Linked DNA regions of Homo sapiens: region 2 is linked to region 1. Evidence: fine-mapped expression QTL. Tissue or cell type: monocytes. Region 1 holds a variant in brackets; the other region holds the start of a gene. All regions are shown on one strand. Distances are from middle to middle.

The links. PIP is the estimated chance that this variant, and not a neighbour inherited with it, causes the effect.
Region 2: it holds the start of RGMA, and the variant in region 1 is fine-mapped to the expression of RGMA in monocytes (TOPMed, PIP 0.99).

What each region holds. Positions count from the first base shown.
Region 1 is chr15:93,243,570-93,251,839 of GRCh38, forward strand. All of the region lies in intron 4 of LOC105370982 (a long non-coding RNA gene), which reads left to right. Among named protein-coding and RNA genes, the nearest start is that of RGMA, 160 kb to the left of the region's middle. RefSeq lists enhancers at 1,195-1,704, 1,705-2,212. The variant G/A (reference allele first, on the strand shown) is at 4,289.
Region 2 is chr15:93,084,796-93,093,065 of GRCh38, forward strand. It overlaps RGMA (repulsive guidance molecule BMP co-receptor a), which reads right to left and starts at 4,416. Exons shown (of 4, transcript NM_020211.3): 1 at 4,124-4,416. The coding sequence starts at 4,137. LOC101927025 (a long non-coding RNA gene) reads left to right here and starts at 4,419. Exons shown (of 5, transcript XR_007064769.1): 1 at 4,419-4,482.

The sequences.
Region 1 (8,270 bases):
GTGTGTGTGTGTGTGTGTGTGTGTGAGCGACGTGGCAAAGATAGGGAGAGAGAGAATGTGTGTGTGTGTGCGTGTGAGCGAGGTGGCAAAGAGATAGGGAGAGAGAATGTGTGTGTGTGTGTGTGTGTGCAAGGTGGCAAAGAGATGGAGAGAGAGAATTGTGTGTGTGTGTGTGTGTGAGCGAGGTGGCAAAGAGAGGGAGAGAGAGAGAATGTGTGTGTGTGTGTGTGTGTGTGTGTGTGTGTGTCTGAGTGCGTGTTTGTCTGAGATGTGTGTATGTTAATTATTAGCCCAGGCCAGGCGCAGTGGCTAACGCCTGTAATCCCAACCCTTTGGGAGGCTGAGGTGGGTGGATCACCGGAGGTCAGGAGTTTGAGACCAGCCTGGGCAACATGGTGAAACCCTGTCTCTACTAAAATATAAAAAATTAGCCAAATTAGTCAGGTGTAGTTGTGGGCACTTGTAATCCCAGCTACTCAGGAGGCTGAGGCACGAGAATTGCTTGAACCTGAGAGGCAGAGGTTGCAGTGAACCGAGATAGCGCCACTGCACTCCAGCCTGGGCAACAGAGTGAGATTCTGTCTCCAAAAATAATAATAATAATAATGATGATGATGAGCCCAGATTGTGGTCAGTTTAAGAGATGAAAGTGAGGAAACAGAATTTTACTTGTTTGGCCACAGAATATTATCTGGGCATATTTGAGAGGAATGAGGAGATAATTTTCTTTTTTAAAAAATGTTTTAGTTGACAAAAAATTGTATATGTTTATTGCATACATGTTGCTTTAAAATATGTATACATTGTGGAGTGGCTCCACTGAGCCCCTTAAGATAGGCATTACCTCACATGCACATCATATTTTTATGGTGAGACTTAATATCTACTCTCTTAGCAATTTTCAGGAGTAAAATACGTTGTTATTAATATAGTCACCATGTTGTGCAATAGAACTGTTGAACTTTTTGCTCCTAATAGAAATTTTATTTTTATTATTCCTAATAGAAATTTTATTTTTATTATTCCTAATAGAAATTTTATTTTTATTATTCCTAATAGAAATTTTGTACCCTTTAACCAACATCTCTCCAAACCTCTCCCTCCCGGCAGCCCCTCGTAACCACCATCCTGCGCTGTACTTTCATGCCTTCAGCTTTTTAGATTCCACATGTAAGTGAGATCACGCGGTGTTTGTGTTTCTGTGCTTGGCTTATTTCCCTTAACTTAAGGTCCTCAGGTTCGCATGTGGAGGAGACAGTTTTCTAATCTTTAATCCTTTGCTTTGTGGAGTGTTTCCAGTCGCCTGAGTGGTTTTCCATGCATTTGCCATTCCGTCTCTTCTTACACTCGGGCAGATATTATCATCATCATGACAGTTTTTAGAGCGGGGACTGAGACTCAGAGAGGTAAAGCCTGTTGTCCAAGACCACGCAGAGGACCAGGATGTTGGAATCTGCCCTTCCTTGCCACTATTTGCTGCATGGCCAGTGTATGCTGGGCACTTTTCTAGGTGCCAGAGGGCACTGAGCTGAGTCTGGTGTTGGGAGGGGTGGGTCTGCGGCCCTCTCCTCCCACACCTGTGGGTTCTCTTCTTGCGCCGAGTGGGGCAGAGGAGATCCGGCTGAGGCAGCACTAGGCGCAGCCCCCACACTGCCTGCGGGGTGGCGGTGGGGATCTGGTGGCTTCTCTCTGTGGTTGTGCAGGTCTTGATGGCTTCTGTACCCAGAGCTCCTGCCCTGGACAGCAGGGGCTCGGAGCTGCCCATTCCCATTGTAAGGAGGCTCCTCTCTATGCTGGAGGGTACTGTCTGGAGGTGTTTGCCTCACTCTCTCCGCTGTGTTAACTGAAAGGCAGGGTGCAGATGCGTGCGGAATCTGGGCAGCCTTGGACGCCCGCCCTTGAACTCAAAGTACGCACACCTTCCTCTTCCAACTTGGACGCCGGCTCCCTGGGTTCATCTTGGCCTTGGCCCTGTCCTTCTCAGGTCTAGTTCATTTCTTTTTGCTATCAGGCTGCAACTCCCATCCAAGGAAGGCTGGGCAGAATCCAATAATGAGTAGATTTCACTGACGGTTAGATTGATTGTCTAATCTGGTTGTCATGGGGGCCAGCAGAGACAACAGCATTGAGTCTTCCAGCGCTGAGGACAAATAGGTCAGAAGCATGCTCTTGGGTGGCCCCTCAGCCTGTCTATCTCTAAGAGACCAAAAGACTCGGTATTTTGCAGCCACCTGGGGTTATGGCAAGGATGATGTCAGGTCCCCGAGGGGGTCTCTGAATGGCCCTTCTGCTCTTGATTTATGAAAAGCATTCTGGCACATGCTTTTCCTCTCTCTGTCTGTTGTCAGACAGCCTGAGGAATCCACTCCCTTCATCCCCGTCCTGTCTCGAATCTCAGCAACACTCTGGGAGGTCTCTCAGTGGCTCCTTCCTAGGTTTCACAATCAAGTCTTTATTCCAGGCAATTTATTTCCAACCTAGATACCAACAGCACACGTTGGGATGACTATAAAGCTGACTGCAAGGACATCTCAGCCAGGCCCAGGCAGTGGATGGAAGTCTTAGGATGGAAGTGTGAGAGTTAAGAAATGATGTATTTCAATTGGAACATTTTTCAGATGGGGAAATGGAGGCATAAAAGGGGGAGGCATGTGGCCTGAGACTCTTACAGGCATGGGACACGTCCTTTTCTGGATCCTGCAGCCCAGTCTTTTCTCCACATCCCAGGGACTTGCTACTCTTCATAACATCTCCTGTGTTCACAGCAGCATACGTGTACCTGCTGCTGTCGTCATTTGTGATAACTGCACACCGCTGGCCGCAGCCCGGCTCAGAGAGACTCATGACCTGATTCTGAGGGACTGGTAGGAGCAGACGCTGTGGAGCGTGTTTGCAAGGGGCCAGGCTCTCCTCTGTGTGCGGTGAATTCAGTTGCTCCTCGTGACTCCCGTGAGGAAGGCATTGCTATTATCCCCATGTCACAGACGAGGACTCTCTGGCACACGAAGGGAGAAGAGTTTGGTCCACATCACACACCCCAGAGTGGCAGAACCAGGATAGGAACCCACACAGTCGGGCTTTGACAAGGTGTTCTTAGCTTCTATGTGATGTGGCTTCCGAGTCAGCTCAGCTGGTGTTCCTGAATCAGGTCTATTGCGAAGGAGCATGTAAGGTTCCAGGAGAGTGCAGGAGGTCTGTCTCATTTTGGAAAGGCCGAGCGACAGGAAAAACCACATAAAACCCTTGCTGATTTTTCTGCTTCTGTTACACCGAGTGTGGGTGCGTTGTGCTCTGTACAAAATAATGGTTTTTGTCAGACAGGGACGAGCCGCTGATGGAGGAACACCTTTCCTCCTAGGCTCTCCCTGCGTCAGGCGCAGCCTCGTCATCCTGCCCTGCCCAGTAATTTAGAAGAATAGCAGTAATGATGACAGCCAAAGCCAGCTGGATCCTCAGGGAGAGTCCTAGGAGGCAAACTATAATTATCTAAATTAGACTCTGAGGGGGACTTAAGTTTTACAACCTGTTGTTCTCTGCCACAGAGAGGAGTGTTGCTAATGTCTCTTTTTGCTGAAAGTGTGCCTTACAATGGAGTGTCTCACGGCTGATGTTCATATGGAAACAATGACACTTGCTTTTCTTTCTTTTTTGCCAAAACCCATTCAAAGAGTTCACTGTATCTCAGTGAAGGTTGAGAGGACTTCTAGAAACTTCCAGAAACTTACGAAAGTTTCCATGTTTGTGAAATGAATGTTTTGCCTTTTTCCTAAATTACATTCCCATCAAGAAGCAAGTAGTTCTTGCATATTCTTCCATCTCAAAGTAATCACTCACCTATTTCACCAGGCTGTTTTTTTGGAGTCTCAACTGGCAAATTTCTACAAAGTGCTCTTCTTCACAAGACTTCCTGTTACCTCAGGACCAGAGGTAACCATGAAGCTGAGGGCGGTGGGGCAGCCTCACTAGTGAAATGACTCCCTCCCGCTCACAAGCCTTCCATGGGGCTCACGCCACACCTCAGCAACATTACAAATGCCGACCTAAGTAACACGGGGGTTGACTTCAGACATTGTGGTCAGGCCGACTTGTGTTTAAACCTAGGCTTTGACACCGGTCGATCGTTCAGCCACATGCAGGTTACCTAAGCATGTCCCACGTGGCACAAAGCAGTTGCCTGAACGCCACACTGGGAGGCTTGTCTTAACTTTATCCTGGCTTCCACCTGCACTCGCCGTGATTCTGAGGGCTACTGACCCCAGCCTGGTGCTGCGTTTGGGCTCAAAAAATT[G/A]CAATGCTGTCAAGCTGCAGAATCTCTATTGCCCAACAGATACTGTTGTCTTGCCAAATAATTTTTAGTAATTTTCCACCCATCCCCCTTTATGTAATTTTCCATTTCCCCATAGCCCCTCTAGTCTGTTTTTTTTTTATTCCCTCCTTTCACTTCCCCATAATCCCTTTTAGTTCCCTCTCTGTTCTCCCTTTAGAAACCTCCATACCTTTGTCCTAGCTGGATTTGAGCTCAGTTATATTGGAGTCTCTTTCCTCTAAGGCAGTAGACTGAACAAAATGTTTTGCCGCCTTTAATGTGTGTCTGGCACTGGCATTGATGAAGGCTTAGCTTCTGCACCTGTAACATGAACAGGTGAGTATCTCTTCTTCTAACTAGGCACTACTTAGTGATATAATAACAGTAACATGTTCTGGGCCATGAGGATTTATTTCCCAAAGTAGAAACCACATTGGTTAAATGTGCAAATATCAATGCTGTACTGAGTTGAAAAGACACCCCAAGCCGGGCACGGTGGCTCATGCCTGTAATCCCAGCACTTTGGGAGGCCAAGGCTGGTGGATCACCTGAGGTCAGGAGTTCAAGGCCAGCCTGGCCAACATGGTGAAACCCCGTCTCTACTAAAAATACAAAAATTAGCCGGGTATAGTGGTGTGCACCTGGAATCCCAGTTACTTGGGAGGCTGAGGCAGGAGAATCGCTTGAACCCAGGAGGCGGAGGTTGCAGTGAGCCAAGATCGAGCCACTACACTCCAGCCTGGGTGACAGAGCAAGACTCTAAGAAAAAAAAAAAAGACACCCCAAATACTCACAAGCGAAGTGACACTTGAAAGAATCTTCACATTTACAGGCTGAAGAAGAGAAACAAGGGAATCTTAAAAGTGAGAGGGCCGGGTGTGGTGGCTCACGCCTGTAATCCCAGCACTTTGGGAGGCCAAGGCAGGCAGATCACGAGGTCAGGAGATCAAGACCATCCTGGCTAACACAGTGAAACCCCGTCTCTACTAAAAATACAAAAAATTAGCCGGGCGTGGTGGCGGGTGCCTGTAGTCCCAGCTACTGGGAAGGCTGAGGCAGGAGAATGGCGTGGACCCGGGAGGCGGAGCTTGCAGTGAGCCGAGATCGCGCCACTGCACTCCAGCCTGGACAACAGAGCGAGACTCCATCTCAAAAAAAAAAAAAAAGTGAGAACAGCGACAGTACATGCAAGGCAGAGTTGTGGATGGAAGAGTGGACTTTGGTAACAGAAAAGAGGCAGGCAAGGTTGGGATTAAAAGGGCCCTGTGTATCAGTGTGAGGTGCTTGCATTCCATCTTTAGGGCAACAGGAGAGCTTAAGCCACAAGGCGAGTTTTGCTTACTAGGTGGTGCTAATAGGAAGAGCCAAACCATAAGGCAGAAAAGAGGTGGATTTGCTTACATTGATATTAAGGATTTCTGGTCCAGTCCCTGGACAGAGTTTATAATAGATGACAGAAATGGGAGAAGGTCTTTACTCAGGAAAATCCTCAAATCCACAGGAAAAAAAGATGGCAACTTCTAACAAAATGGGAAAAGGATAGAATGAGGCAATTTTTAGCAGAAAAACCTCCCATCTCAAATAATAAACACATGATGAGGTGCTTAATATCTTAGTAATCAGATGAAAATTAAACAGCCACAAGCTACCACTTTACATCTGTTAGACTATATCTTTATTAGAAAGCTGGATAGTGCCAAGTGTGGTGGGAGATCCAGGAGCCTCCCCTCACTGCTACGAGGAGACTGGATTGGAGAGCATGCGAATTGAGTATTGCCTACCCAAAGAGGCTACATCAACCCGGATCCTCGAACAAAGATGTTCTTTGCTGTGTCATTTGTAGAAGTATGGAATTCTCTCTCAGCTAAGAGATGAGGCTGACAAAGTGCTGTGGATGCACATGAAGTTTGACGCATCAATTACAGGAAACAGATCAGCCAGCCAACAGCGACATCGCTGGATCTCAACAACGCAGTGTTAGTGAGAACTCTAGGAAGCAAAATGAATTATCTATGCCATTTACATAGATTAGAGATACACCCATACAAATATATACAGCTTTTAAGGAATATGTGCAAAAAGCACTCTATTAAAGAGAATGAAGGTTGCCCAGAGGCAGGGGGAGGGGAAAGGGAGTGAGGGGATGGAGCTTGAATCTGGGGAGGGGAAAGGGAGTGAGGGGATGGAGCTTGAAGACAATAAATAAATAATAAGAGTAAAACCTTGCATGGTTACAGCTCTCAGACTGAGGAGTATGAAGATTTTAGCCTTTGGCACTGAGGTTAAACAAAAGCCATCATTTTGAGGGAAAGGACTACCTTTGTTTATGTACTTTATTGGGGTCTGGAAGGATGCCACATATGCTTAAATAATTAAGAATTTTTTTAATAATCCCATATAATGTTTATCATGTTTTCAAAGCTCCTTCCCATAGGTGGATCAATTTGATTGTTACAATGACTATATAAATGAGTTCGTGGGGATATTTTTAGAAAATGAGGAAGCTGAGCCCATAGGGGCAAAGTGACTTGCCTAGGGTCACACAGCTGGGAAGTGTGACTCACCCCTTGGACTCTTAACCCTTGTCCAAGGTCTCAGGTCCCCAGGAATTATCACTACATCAAATGGAAAATCATTGCTCCTTTAAGGAAATTGAAATGATAAATGTCGTTTGCCTTGGATTTTTTTCACATGGACTTTTCTGTTTTCACTGCTTTTGTTGTGCTTAGATTTTGTTTTTGTCATTGTTAGGGGAGAAATTTTGCTACTTGTGTATCATGTCAATGGCTGTTAGCACTACAGCATAAAGTCCGTTAATGGGTTTAACAGAACTAATAGCAGCTATTTTTAATTTAAAAGTGTCTGTATGTATTTTTCTTATTTCAAACATAACTTATACTCCATTGGAACTCTCTTTTTTTCACCTTCCAGAGATAACCGCTGGTAAGAGTTTGGCTTATATTCTTCTACATTTTTTTCCCCACAAGAAACTGAAATTTGAATTTTCTTCTACAAGTGAGAAAAAAAAAAAGTAAAATCTCTAACTGTCTTAGTGATGATAATTCTGAGAAGACAGGCCCATTGAGCCAAGTAGGAGGATAGGTTTCCTGAGGATGGAGATGCAGAAATAGTTGACTTTGCCTTCACGAAGCATCCTGACATTTTTAGATGTGGCTACACTCTGTGGGCCGGAAGTCGAATTCCCTGGAGGGCTAGAGCTCTCAGTATTTTGGACATATGTGAAGTCAGCACAGGGGGCAGGCGGTAAGTTAACTTGAAGAGAATTCCAGTTACAAATTTAGCTCAGCTTCTAAAAAACACTCCCATCGAAGAGAGATTCCTGGTTGCTGTGGAACTGCGTCCCCTGTGGGATTTTCCTTGTGGAGTTAACTAGACACAGTTGTTACTAGGTAGCGGGACAACAGATTTGCTTAAGATCTCTTCGATTTTGACAGTTTGATGATGGGTGACTTATGTGGTATTGTGGACATCTGTTGGCTTTATATTTTGCCTGCCAAGCATCCATACTTTCTTTTTTCTGGTATCCATACTCAATTTTTCTTCTGGTTCACCACCTATACCGGGTTGAATAATGCCTCCCTCCCCACCCCAATTCATGTCTACTCGGAAGCTCAGCATGTGACTTTATTTGGAAATAAGAGTCTTTGTGGATATAGCTAGGATGAGGTCATCCTGGATTAGGGGGGGTCCTAAGTTCAAGGACTGGTGTTACCATGAGAAGACACAGAGAAGGAAGGAGAGGCAGAGACTGGAATGAAATAACTGGAAGGGAAAGAACACGGAGGATCGGGATTGTCAGCGCCTCCAGGAGCTAGGAGAGAGGCCTGGAACGGGCTCTGCCTCAGAACCTCCAGCAGGAACCAACTCTTTGGACACCTTGATGTTGGGCTTCTGGCCTCCAGGACTGGGAGAAGATGCATTTCTGTTGTTTAAGTCCTCCAGT
Region 2 (8,270 bases), 160 kb before region 1:
ATCTGGAGAGGAGAGACACATCATGGTGCAGATCAGTTGAGAAAAGTATAAAAGTCTAATAGGGGAGTGAATCCTAAAGAAGAGTATGCACTGTGGCTGACAATACTAGTAATGTGAGGGATGTGTAGGGGCCTTCAGGGGTAGGTATATGTACGTTGCATGCTTCCACCTAATCTTGTTTAAAGACATCAAGGAGAAAATTCTTCAAAATACCTACAAAGGATAAAAATGGGTTGCATCCATCTTCAAGAAGAAATGTACACTAAGAATAAAATAATGTTATCAAAACTCTTACTGAGAAATTAGGCAGAATATCTCTGTTTCACAAGGACAGAAGAATGGAATATTACCAGGAAACAGAGCAAACTGTTCCTGTCAGCCAGGGTGAGCTGCTCCAAAGACCCTGATCTTAAGAGTCCATGAAGATGAAAAAATGAAATATAAGGAGAAGCCACAACAGACGGTAACTACTAAAATGTCCTGCCAAGACAGAAGTCAATGAGTTTTGGGGCGTTTTTACTCATACCCGCTGATCTCTGTTTTGGCCCACAGAGGACACAGAACCTATGGGAATTGGCCTCCTTTGACCAGATAGTTGACAGAGTCTTTAAACCTTCTGCCTAATTTTCAGGCTCTGGGAAATCCAGTATTTTGCTTTCTGAAAGTTCTTCACCTCATAGCACTGCTTTAAACAAGCAACTGAAAAATGAGAAAAGTAAATCCAACCAGCAATTCTGTAGTCACTCTCTGCATAAACTGTTTGCTACACTTCCATTATTTACTGTGGTAATCTGGATATAATCATTTCGTAAGTTGGGTAGGTACATAGTACATTTTTATGTTAGTCAGTTACCAGTGACTTAAAACTTTTTATATGAGGTTATAAAAGACATTTGCATTTATTTTGTCAATTTCTGCCCTACTTTTAAAATTCCTTCTTCTTCCTGCCCTAAGAATTGTAAAGTTTCACACCTCACTAGGCATTCTTGCCTCCTGACCCCTGGGTTCTAACATGATACAGCACTTCTACTCACAGGACGGACCTGGCTAAGAAACTGGGTATCCTTTCAATAGAGTTCATTTGTTCATCTGTCACCAAGGAAACTGACTTCTGCCTGGCCTTGTATGCATACTTGGGTAAGGCAATCCTTAATTTTTTCCACTGCCCTATTCATTGCTCCTTTATAGCTCTGTTGCTAAGAGAAGAGAGGCTGAAACTGAGCAGTCATTTGCTCAAAATAAGAAAAAGAGGAGCCTGTCTTTTGGATAGGCTGGATACCAAACAGGTGGGGAAACCTGGAGCTTCCCTTCTTCAGGTTAAATTTATGTTCAGTTAAGTTTGTGGAATGGCTACATAATGGAAGCAAAGCCATTCCCTAAAAGAGCCACAGGAACACCACAGACACTTAAAAGTTAACTAAACTTACCTTTGGGATGTTATAAGTCAAGTTCTAGAATAATTACCTGTAAGGAGTAGTGTCATTTCGTTTCACAGAACTAACAGATTCCAATTTGCCTGCGCTGCTTTCAGATAATCCTTCTATGTTTTTGCTCAATTGCACTTGGATACTTCCTGCCTCTTTCCCTGGATGGCAGGCTTCTTGATGGATCGGTGACCGTGCCTTCTTTCATGTCTATACTGCATGCTTCAAGGCAGGAACAAATTTTGCAACCATACTTGGTAAAAACAAGCGCTAGAACTTAATTCATTTGGTAGCAAGGTTGTAGGGGGAAAAACGCACTTTAGACTCACAGAACACTGGCCATATCCCTTCTGCTTTCTGGCCATCAGTTTCTTCTGAGAAACTGAAAATACCAGCACCCATTCCTGCCTGCTTCCTGGGAGCAGCAAGCATCCCTGGAAGAATGGCTGAAAAACTCCCTGTCCCAGTGTCAGGGATGCTCAGTCCCTATTTATTTCATTTTGCAACTGCTCGTCTAAGAATTCTTGGGCTTGGCTTCTCACAGGGCTGCTGAAGAGCAAGGGATTGTATTAAAAAGGAGATTCTTGTGCCTTTATTGTCTATTATTACATACACTGGGAAGCAGCAAGTTATTCCTTGGAGGAGGTTTGTAAAAAGAGAAAGCAGGCAGAGGTTTCTTAGCAAAAGTCAAAGGTGCCCTCCTTGAATGAGATGCCAAGCTATTCTAAGACCTCGTCTGTCACAAGTCTCATGATGACATAAATACCTACCAATGGAGACACAGTTTGAGACAGCATGACGGGGCAGACCAGCCACCCACCATTTCATATGTCTATTGGAGAATGTAAGCAACTGTCTGACACCTGGGAGGGAAATAATGGAAGCAGGGTACTTGAAAAAAGGAGGCTAAGACCTCTTTCACTACCAGCACAGCCCAGAGAGTCTCAAGGGGGTACTACAGTAGACCACTACACTGCTCTACAAGGGGCCAGGGTGCCCTTCAGAACCGGGTGAGCCCAGCTCACTGCTAATATATTATCTGGCCTGGAAGGTGGCAGCAAAAACCAGCCACAGAGAACGTGGAGCCCGCCTGGATGTGTGGGTGCCCCACCCAGAGCCTTTGTCTGCAGAACTTGCCATCCAGCCACGTCTGCCCCAGTTGTTAATTGGAGATCATGTCCCTGTAAAGGGGGCTTGCTTGTCACTTGCTGTGGTAACAGCAAGAAACCCCTTCTTTGTATGTGCAAAAAAAAAAAAAAAAAAAACCACAAAACCCAGTTTGGGTACACTATTCTGTTCCTGCACAAATGGGCAGGAGGCCCTCTCCCAGTTCTCCTCCTGTTGCCCTTCGGAGCACAGTTACTCTCTTTTCTAGGGGTCATGGCTCAAAATCCACCCAAGAAATCACCCGTTTGTGATGCACAGGAGAAGACAGAGGTTTGTGCATTGGTTTTCAAGATCTCTGCACCAGATACCTGCGGAAGGGGCATCTTCTTACAGCAGTTAACATTTTATATTACGTTTTTGCTGGAAGAGTCTAAAACCAAACAGAGAAGGTGATGGAGCTCCTTTAGGTGACAGCATGCCACTCAACACGACCCGCAATTTCGTCCCCTGAGCTCAATGTGCTGAGCATGGGAGGTCGGGGTTCTCCCTGGTACCGTCGATACTCAGAGAGCTTCTGTAGCCTCCTTCCTGGAGGCGAGGGCTGGTTCCCGCCTCTCCACCTTGTGCGGGAGACTACTTTGAGAACACCCAACAACTTCGCAGCCTAAGAGGAATGCACAGCTCACCACTTCCGCTAGATGGCGCTACTTCCCCTACTCCGCCCGCGAGACACCCAATTTATAAAATAAATACAACCCAACACCTCCCAAAACCACACCACATAATAGCAGCTCACAGGCTCCCATTAGAAATCTCAATTTGGGAGAACTGATTCTACCTCCGAGCAAGTCTAATACAATTACATTAATAAGACGCAATCCCGAATTGCACCCGAGCGTCCCCCACACCCGCCCTCCCATTGAATACACCTGTCCCCCATGCCCGGGCTTGTACCCTGGGTTGAGCTGCGGCGCGAGCCGGCGCTGAATCGTCGCCGTGCCCTCCCGTCCACTTAGGAAAGCCGGGGCGGCTTGGCAATGGGCATCCTCGGCCCTCAATCCAAGGTCCGCACCTTCCCGTACGCCGGCGCGCCGAGGCAAAGGGCCGCCGGGACGCGAGCCCACGCGGTGCACTGCGCCGACATCCCCGAGGGCAGGAGATGGCCAGGCAGCTCCGCAGCCGGGCGTCGAGCGGGAGGCGGGGGCCCGGGCGGCGCGGGCCAATGGGGGTTCACGGCGGGACAGTCGGGTGGCCGGCTCCGTCCGGGGCTCCGCGAGCCGGGCTGAGGGAAGGAGCTCCCAGCCCGCACACGGTGTAAGGGACGTGTGCCGGGTCTGCCCAACCACGCGCGCTGGCGGCTGCCCGGGGGAGAGTATTTTAGGAAAAAAGAACAAACACCAAACCACAAAAACTTTCCTGCTGCCAACAGCTAAAGCGATAGAGGCGCAGCAAAGCTCCAAATGTGGGCAAGATGGGAGCAAGATGAGACGCGGGGCTAAGGAAGACCAAAGCAGCGCCGTGGCCCCGGCATGTGTCGGCGGCGCCTCGGAGATGTCAGAGCCGGGTCTGCCCGGCTCCCGACCCGCGCTTACCTTGGCGGCTGCATGAGCCCCTGCGGCCCGCGGGGGGTGGCGCTGGCGGGGCTGCGGGAGAAGAGGGGGTGTCGGGGCGCCGCTCGTCTGCCCCGGGGCAAGGTGGGAGGGGCTCCGCTGGCGCTGGTCCCCGCCGCCCCGGCCGGCTCAGCAGCGGCCCGGGGAGCGCCTCCTGCTCCCGGGCTGCATGCCTGCGAGCGCCTGGCGGAGCCGGCCCGGGAGCGAACGGCCAGTGCTTCCCCGGCCCAGCGGCTCGGGCGGCGCAGCCAGCGCTCGGGAGACAACTGCAGAGTGGGGCGGCCGGGACCAGCCCCCTCCCTCGCCCGGCCCCCGCCCGCCGCCGAGCGCGGCGTCGCGAGGTTCGTTTGCGCGCCGAGGGGAGGGGGCGGGCCGGGCGCCCGGGCCGCGGGCGGGGGGCGCGCGCGGGCGGGGCCGGCAGGGAGGGGCGGGGAGGAGCGGGGTGCGGGCTCGCGTTGCCCCGCCCCGCCGCGGCCCCACCCTCCCGCATCAGCACCGGCTGGGTGGGTGCGGAGTGCGCCAGCGGCCAAGTCAAGACTCCTTGAATGCTCAGGTTAGGGGGCGCGGGCGGCAAGTGCGGCGACTCCCCGGGGCGCCTCCAACTTTCCGAATCGCCCGCAGGGTTGCGGTGGAGCGCACGGTGTCCTTCAGTTAGGCGGTGGTCGAGGGGAGTTCCTCTGAGATTTCTGGAGAAGGCGGTTACATCCAAGACAAATGCTGTTGCGCTCTGCGGAGACGCACCTTTGTTCTATAGAGATTTTGTTGTTGTTTAAGAATCTTCCTGAAAAAACTAATACATATGTATTACATGCTAACACACGCATACATTCTTGCGTAGAATTGTACATAACTCAGGAGTGTCTAGAGTGAAAAGACCGTATCGCACTCCCTCCCACGGCCGCGGCTCTCCCACGGCCGCGGCTCCCCCGCGGTAACCTTCGGTCAGGGTGTGCTCTGCCGCGGTTCTTTCCAGTCTCTGCGCTTTTACATGCACACGCACAGATTGCGAGTGGAATCTCCTGGGCTTTTCAAAAGAATGTTTTCAACATTAAGCGCATGCACACAGTGGCTTGAACACGGCCACGTCGGGAGCAGTAAATCCCCAGAGGCTCCGGGAGCCCAGGGAAGGACCCTTGCTGTGAAACAGCAAAGAGCCACCCAATCGCCATGTGTGGATCTGAAACCCCAGCTGGAGCGTGAAGTCGGTCTGGTTACACAGCTCAGGCCCAAATTAGCACTGCACGGTTAGAGAGATTTGCCAGTACATTCTAGACAGGGTTATGACCTTCCCCTTCTTACAGAACAAACTGTCTTGAATTTTGATATGATGAGAACTCTGGATTTGCAAAATGAAAAGGTATCGTCCGCATTAAAACACGATCGTTATTTATGCGTGTGGTCTTCAGAGATGTGGTTTTAACTCAATATTCTCCGTTTTATTTGTCAAGTGTATTTGTATAATCTATAGCTGGGATATAAATAAAATTAAGTGGTTTAGCAGGAAGGGATTGGGGATGGGTTTCTAGAATTAGCTCTGACCTTCGGCAAGTCATCTAGCTCTGCTGGGCCTCAGTTTCCTCATCTATGAATAGTAGGGTGTGTGTGTGTGTGTGTGTGTGTGTGTGTGTGTGTGTGTGTGTGGTCTTCCTGCCCTGACATTCTGTGCCCTGACATTCAGTGAATAACCAATTTCTTCATCTTTCATAGCTCAGCTCCAACATCTTCCCCACCCTCTAGGGAGTCCTCACATCCGTGCCTTTCCTTCCTAACACTGAGCTCACTCGGTAATTAGGCGCTCATTAGAGTGACCTTTCCCTACATGTTGGCCTCTCCCACCGTACCATAAGCATCATGAGGGCAGGAACCAGGACTCCTTGGAGTCATCATTGCATTCCTAGCACTTAATATGGTGCCTGGCACACTACAAGAATCTCTGAATGACTGTCACGCAGATAGTAGATTTCTTACTGTTCTTCCAAATTGCCTGGCATTTTTAAAAGGTCTGTAAGTGGAAACGTGTCTTTTTAAAATGAGGCCTTTGGAAAGTAACCAGCAGGGTTTTCCCATGGTGGGGGACAAACAATCCACTGTCTAGATAAGGACAGACAATTCTCAGCTCAATCAAGGGCCGTGGAGGTAGCCGGTAACTATTTACCTTGATGAGTGCAGGCACCCGTGGAGAAGACAACGAATATTAATGCTACTCGTTAAGTACTTGGTTAAGTTAGAACCCTGCATAGGCAGTTGGAATACACAGAGTGCTCAGATTTAAATGAAGCCGTGAAGTGTGTTTAGGGTGCAAATTAAGAAATGGACATGCTTTCAACCAACAATCTAGAAACATTCCTAATATAAAGCTCCAGGGTATCCTTGGCTTTCTTTACTGCAAAGGGCCTGGATTCCTTAATATGAACAGGAAACAGGCTAACCTAGGTACAAGAGTTTAAAAAAAAGAAAAAAGGCCATTAAGAAACAAGGGGCGGGGTAAGTGAAAGTCTAAGTCAGTACAAGACTAATATCTATATTAGTTTCTTTTTTGTCTGATATGTAGATTTGCCGAGGGAGAGGTTAAAATCCGGCGTCACATTTATAGAGGAAAACTGGGGTTTCCACCCCTTCTTGGCCACTCTTCCTTTTCTTCCCTTTTGTGAGAGGGGATACATGCTTGCTGGGCGGTCGCCAGATCCACCTGGATGCCACCTGGTGTGAGAAAGCTCTCCTGGGATGCACCACACCCGGCGCAGGGAAAGCCTGTGCTACTGGGGTGCGGAGCAATTTGCTGTCTCTCTGTTGCCAGTGAGGGGTGGTGCCTACTGGGCAAGAGTGCGTCCTCGGAGCGTGGATTCATAGTGAAATTGACCAAGCAATGTGACAGTGAATTGGCCTTACTTTACTCAGGGTTGCCACTGGGGGCCATCCCTTTGGATTGGGTGCCCTGCCTATTACATTTTTCTAGAAAAATTCAGGTTCAAAAGTAAAAGGCACCTTAAAGAAAGAGCAAGTCAGCAACTGTCCTCGGAACCTACTGAGGAAGGACTGACTGACTCCCACCCTTGGCTTTAGTGAGCCAAGAACCGGGAGTAGGTGCTAGGACTTACTTGTTCTGCACAGACCAGAAGAAGCTGTGTTTCCTTCCAGCAGGGATGCCTCCCAGAGGCATTTGTGGCAAGCACTTCCTCCATGTCACGCACTGGGCTCGACGCTGCCGAGGGTGCTGACCTGAGGCACACAGCCCCTGTCCTTAGACGCTTGCAGTCTAGTGGGAGAAAGAAGGAGTAAATAGGCCTCGGTGGCTAGGGTTGAGGGGGCATTGCATAGCAGCTCCATTATCTGTCCTCATCAGCAACCCTCCGCGTAGAATTCTAATAAAACACAGCACTTGTGCAAATGCTACCTAAGGCCAGTCTCTGGCCTTTTCTTCCAGTCAGACTGCAGCTCAGAGGGTCCCAGAGACACTCTGGAGTTGACGCTGCAAGGTAGAAGCAAAGAAGAGACAAACGAAATCTAATGTGATGGGATTTAGGAGACGGATGGGATTATTTCTAGTTGGAAGGACTAGGAAAGTCTTTATGGACGAGGTGTCACTTGAGATGATCACTGATGGCCCATCTGATGGATCTGATTGTAGTGCGTGCTTGATAGGGAAGGAGGGAGAGCATCCTAGGCAGGGGAGTCACTTGCATAGGGGCACAGAGGTGGCAAAAGTTGGGCAAATTCAATAGGGAGTGTTGAGTCTGGTTGGAATGTGTGCACTGGAGAGATGAGGGAGGACAGGGTGTTGTGATTCTTATGGTTATGGGTTCTTTCTAATTTGGTCTTGAGGTCTGTCAAGAGTGGCCATAAGCCAAGACAGCCACTCTAGGAGAGCCCTGATTGGGAAAAGTTAGGTTTGGGTGTGTGGTTCAGGTGAGACGCAATGAGGAGGTGAATGTAAAATGCATGAAATAGAAGAAATATGTTACTTACAGATCCAGGAGAGGTTAGCGGTGCCAACGGGAGGCTGAAGAGGAAGTCTAGAGATTGCAGGGAGCTCAAACAGCTGGGAGAGGAGGGAATGAGAGAGAGACAGACAGACAGACAGACAGACAGGGAGAGATAGAGAGAACCTGCTGGCTGTGCCTTTATTAAG